Regions from separate parts of the Homo sapiens genome. Here region 2 is linked to region 1. The links come from fine-mapping of genetic effects on gene expression. A gene starts in region 1. The other region holds a variant in brackets. All regions are shown on one strand. Distances are from middle to middle. Region 1 holds the start of COTL1 (coactosin like F-actin binding protein 1). Region 2 has its middle 45 kb from the start of MEAK7.

Region 1 (2,500 bases):
TTTGTTTTTTTGCTTGTTGAGAATTCTAACATTAATTGGACATTGTCCCTGACCTTTTGGGTTTCTATTTAGGATTTGTTTTTATCACTTAATAACCAACAATGATGACATTTTATCGAATGTCTAGTATATTTGTTCCAAGTATCATTTCAATTACACTTAAAACAAAGCAGTGATGTCAGTTATACTATTTTTCCCATTTGAGGAGTCATTTAAAAGAGGTTTTGAGGCTTTCCAATGGCCCCCAGTTGGAAAGTGGCAGTACTGGATGCAATTCAAGAGCCCAGTCTTCAGGATCCTGCCTTTTTACCTACCTGGACGCTGTAACTGGTCTCTGTGGAATGGCTGGATGAGGGAATGAATGAATGAGTCAGTGAAGGAATGAGGAAGACAGAATGAGTCAGCTCGTGCTTTCAGAGGAGCCCAAAGGGAGAGGTTAAGATAGGAATGCAAATGACCAGAATCCAGAGTAAACGCGAGCCCACCAGCGTTTTGGAAGCAGTCCACTTTCTACCCCCTCCTATTTAAAATGCTTCATTCTTTCCAGTTCCTCCCCACCTAGAATCCATGGAACCAAACGCTGGGGTAGGGACAGTGGCCAGCCTGTCTCCTTGGGTTTGACGCATTACATCATCCACGTGGAGGTCCCCTGTGGAGCTCTGCAGCCCTGCAGCCTCAGGGGCAGGGGGGTGGGGAGAATGAGGAAGGGGGAGAGGGGGAATAGGAGGAGGGAGTAGGGGACAGGGAGGGAGGAGATGCCAGGAGGGTAAGTGGAGAAGAGGGAGGCGAAGCCGGGGGCAGCAGGGGAGGGGGTCAAGGAGGAGGAAAGAGGAGAGCTTGGGGAGAAGGAAATAGGGAGGATGGAGAAGTTTTGGGCTGGGATAGGCAAGAAGAGGGAGGAGGAGAGAGGAAGAAGAATAAAGGGGGAAGGGAGAAAGAGGGGGAGGGAAGGGAGGGGGAAGAGGTCAGGGAAGTGGGGGAAGCAAGCAGTGGGGGAAGAAGAGGAAGGAGGAGGGAGAGGAGGAAGGCGGGGTGGGAAAGGGGGTTGGGGTAGTGGGAGTTTCCAGGGAGGGGTCGGGAGGGGAGGAGGGGAAGTGAGAAGGAGAAGGAGAGAGAAGAGGGATGTTGGGGGAGAAGAGAGCGGGAGGGAGGAGGGAGAGTGAGAGGGAGGAGGCAAAGCCCCTACTCCAGCCCCCACCGCGGAGTTGCGCAAGCCTTCCGGTCTGGGATTGGCCGCCAGAGAATCAAGACGCTCCGCCCCCGCAGCCCGACGGCCAATGAAGAGGCGGGCCGCCGCCTGGGCGGCCAATGGGCGCGGGGGGGCGGGGCGGGCCACGGCCTGGGGTCCCCGCGCGCTCTCCGTCCGCAGTGGAAGCCGCCGCCGCGCTCGCAGCTTGCAGGCGCCGCGTAGCCGTCGCCACCGCCGCCAGCCCGTGCGCCCTCGGCGCGTACCCGCCGCGCTCCCATCCCCGCCGCCGGCCAGGGGCGCGCTCGGCCGCCCCGGACAGTGTCCCGCTGCGGCTCCGCGGCGATGGCCACCAAGATCGACAAAGAGGCTTGCCGGGCGGCGTACAACCTGGTGCGCGACGACGGCTCGGCCGTCATCTGGTAGGAACTTTTCATTCGTCTCCACGCCCCGCTCCCCGGGCTCGCGCGGGGCCTCGTGCACCGAGCCGGCCTCCAGGCGGGACGGATTCGGGCCTCCCGCGCTGTCTTCCTCGCCTTATTCCGGGACGGCGTGCCAGGCCCCCGCGGGCTTCTCCGTGGCCAGCGCGTCTGTTAGATTGTCCTCTGCAAGCGCCGCGTCGCGCGGCCACCAGCGCTGATGTGTGTGTGTGTTTTTTTCTTCTCCCAACCCAAAGGGTGACTTTTAAATATGACGGCTCCACCATCGTCCCCGGCGAGCAGGGAGCGGAGTACCAGCACTTCATCCAGCAGTGCACAGGTAGGGAGGCGCGCCTGCCGGGCGGATGCGCGGTCGTTGGGAGGTTGTCTGCACCCGGGGAGCCCCGGCCAGAGCGAACCCGGGAGGAACCGGTGGCCACATGGGGTGCCCCTGGCGCATGGCGTGGGAGGAACCCGGTGTGAGCGTTTTAAGGCCTCATAAAACCTTCTCCCCTCTGGACATCCGAAGCAACAGAAGTGACCCACCTGCCTCCGCCATCCTACAATGCCTTCTCCAGGCGGGGCAGCTCTTTTGCCCCCTGCGGTCCACTGGTTTTCTAAGGTCAACTCCTGTGTTTCCAAACTCCAGTGTCCATCCAGCTCTTCCCACTGTCCCCTTTGATCAGTCACTGAGCCCAAATACGAACAGGCTAGGGGGCTGCTTGGAAGGGAAAGAAACTCAGCCGCGCCCTCCTTTCTCCCGCTATCATTGTCTGCCCGTGTGCTGATTTTATGTGATTTTTAATTTGACGAGTAGAATCAGATGCAAAAGAGTACACACCATATGATTCCATTTAGAAATCCTAGACAAGGCGAAACTAATCTATGGTGTGAA
Region 2 (3,009 bases), 69 kb after region 1:
TTTATATATGTAAGTGAAATTGTACATATACAATTATACATGAAATTATATATATATAATAGGTATATGTGTAGTTTTGCAATTACATCAAGGAAACTGATGAAATTGCATCAATTATTTGCATGTCGTTAACAACACCTCAAGGAAAATGTTCATATAGAGATATCTCATTTATTGAAAAAGTCTCCAGTATTTGAGATTATGGAGATGAACTAGTCCCCTGTTGACAGACACTGTTGAGGCTGACGTCTATACCCCATAAAGGATCCTACCAACGTGATGGGGGTATCACTCTGTGATTAGATTAGAGTGTGTTTTATGACATTGTTGACTTTGAGAATGGGAGATGACCCTCAGTGGGCCTGACCCAATCAGTCGAGCCCTTAAAAGGGCTGGGATTCTTTCTGACAGGGAGATTGTAAGTAGGAGAGGGATTTGACTTCAGGGAACAGGGAAATTCTCCATTGTTGCGGGGGGTGGGTCAGAAAGGCCTCCAGGAGGTAAGGATGGCTCATGGCTCTCACAGTTGGGAAATACGGGAACCCCTGTCTTAAAGCCACCAAGTGATCTCAGAAGAGGCCCTTGGGCTCCAGGTGAGAATGCAGTGAGCTGGCACCTTGATTTTGGCCTTAGGATGCCCTGAGCAGAGAGTCCAACCGTGCTTGTCCAGACTTCTCAACTGCAGAACTGTGACATCACCAGTGACTTGGGTGTTTTTATGGGGAGGGAAGAGTGTTGTCTGAAGTCATCAAGTTTGTTGTACTTTGTTACACAACAAAAGAAAACTGGTAAGGCATTCCTATGGTTTCCAGCAATTGCGCTTTTAAGGAACACTTCTGTCTTGAACCTCCTTTCACACAAGTCTTTATTTCAGAATTTCTGTGGGGTGGATTTCTAAAAGATTTTTGGGCTAACCATTTAAATTATCGATGTGTGCTGCATGAGCAGTGGCTCATTCCTGTCATCGCAGCACTTCGAGAGGCCGAATTGGGAGGATCACTTGAGGCCAGGAGTTTGAGACCAGCTGGGGCAACAAAATGAGATCCCCGTCTCTACAAAAAATAAAAATTAAAAATTAAAACATAAAAAAGGACATTATGGATGTGAATTACCAAATTGTCCTCCCGAAGCCACGTGTTGATTGACAGTCTGCCCCCTTTCCCCTGCCCTCACCAACAATGGATATGAGTCATCTTTTTTTAACTGTGGTAAGATACACGCGACATAGGACTTACCATTTTAACTATTTTAAAGTGATCCAGTCCGTTGCATTCAGCACACTCACGATATTGTGCCACCCCCGCTGCTCTAGCCCCAGAACTTTCCTGTCACCCCAAAAGGAAAACTCGTATCAATTAGGCAGTCACTCCCCACCCCCTCCCTGGCCCCCGGCAGCCACTCATCTGCTTTCTGTCTCCTATCATTAATCTTTTACTTGTTGCCAATCGGATACACAAATAGGGGCATTTATTTCAAGCTGCTCTGATGACAGGATGTGCACACAGCTCTCTCTTCCTGGAACTCAGACAAGCGCATGTCCCGGTTGCCGACAGAACGGCCCCACCACAGGTCAGGGCTCC[G/A]GACGCATGGACACATTCTCTGCCTTTCCTGCTTCTCCCAGCAGGCCCTGTCTCTGCCACCTCCCCATCAGCCCCGTGTTCTCCAGCTTGAGACCTTGGCATGTCCTTCCTCCATCCTCCTGCCTCTCCTCCTCCACCCTCTGTATCACTGGTGGCTGATTCTAAGTGGGCAAGGCCTCCTGCGTCTCAGCCTGCCTCCCTGCTCGGTTGAGACTCTCGTCTGGCATGGGGTTGGCTGCCCCGGGGCATCTCTGGGCAGGGGACTGGGGATCCAAGGCCTCCGGGGCCTGGCAAGTACGGGGAGGAGGGCTGGAGGCTGGGCACCAAGGAGACAACAGGGAGAGGTGGGGACTGTGGCCAGGGGAGGGCGCGTGTCTTTCTAAAGAGGGCAGCTGCATGGTGACTGTGTGCTCCCAGATTTTCTTATTTTCTAAAGGAGTCCTAAATATAGATATTTATATACAAGTGATTGACATTTCATCAAAACAAGCACATTCTCATTACCCTGGCCAACCAACACGGAGGAGTCGGGGTGGTGGAAGCAGGCAGCCACTCGCCCCACAGGCTGGCTCCGTGTGAGAGGCGAGGCGTGGAGACAGCAGGTCTCCAGGTTGCTGGAGGCTTGAAAGCCTGAATAGATGCACCCGGCTGCATCTCCAGGTCCCCAGGCTCCTGCCAGGCCAGGCTCTTTGTGGATTCTAGAACATTCTCTTCAGCTGCCTGAGCCCCTGTGGCTGTTTCCATGGCCCTGCAGGGTCTGAGGGAAAAGTGAGCCCTGTGCTGCTTTTTTTTTTTTTTTTTTTGAGATCGAGTTTCACTCTTGTTGCTGCCCAGGCTGGAGTGCAATGGCACAATCTCGGCTCACCGCAACCTCCGCCTCCTGGGTTCAAGTGATTCTCCTGCCTCAGCCTCCTGAGTAGCTGGGATTACAGGCATTTGCCACCACGTCCAGCTAATTTTGTGTTTTTAGCAACGACAGGGTTTCTCCATGTTGGTCAGGCTGGTCTCAAACTCCTGACCTCAGGTGATCTGCCTGCCTCAGCCTCCCAAAGTGCTGGGATTACAGGCGTGAGCCACCGCGCCCAGCCGTGTGCTGCTGTCTTTAGAGCCTCTCGAGGCCCCGCTTTCGGCTGAGCACCCCCCCCCCTCCTATGTGACATGGAGATGCCCCAGGCCTGGGATTGTCCCCGTGGATTTGCGAGCATCTTGGGCAGATGCTGTGGGAGGGCCTGACCTCTCCTGCAGGGTGAATGAACTGTTTGTGTATGTGTGTGGGTTGGGCGGGTGGGTGCTGGGTTATTCCTGGGCTGACAAAGAGACCCCAACCCCAAAGCCCAGCCTCGGGAAGCAGGCTCAGCCCACCAGCTGTCAGGGAGGGATCCCGGGCTGGGGGAGTTGGAGGGGGCTGTCAGACAGAAGAAAATGTTGC

What was found. PIP is the estimated chance that this variant, and not a neighbour inherited with it, causes the effect.
Region 2: its variant is the best candidate, but not a certain one, in a credible set for the expression of COTL1 in spleen (GTEx, PIP 0.74).

The regions. Positions count from the first base shown.
Region 1 is chr16:84,616,946-84,619,445 of GRCh38, reverse strand. COTL1 (coactosin like F-actin binding protein 1) reads left to right here and starts at 1,368. Exons shown (of 4, transcript NM_021149.5): 1 at 1,368-1,608; 2 at 1,863-1,945. The coding sequence starts at 1,532. RefSeq lists silencers at 1,110-1,469, 1,490-1,539.
Region 2 is chr16:84,547,931-84,550,939 of GRCh38, reverse strand. No RefSeq gene overlaps it. Among named protein-coding and RNA genes, the nearest start is that of MEAK7, 45 kb to the right of the region's middle. RefSeq lists enhancers at 1,299-2,048, 2,800-3,009. The variant G/A (reference allele first, on the strand shown) is at 1,581.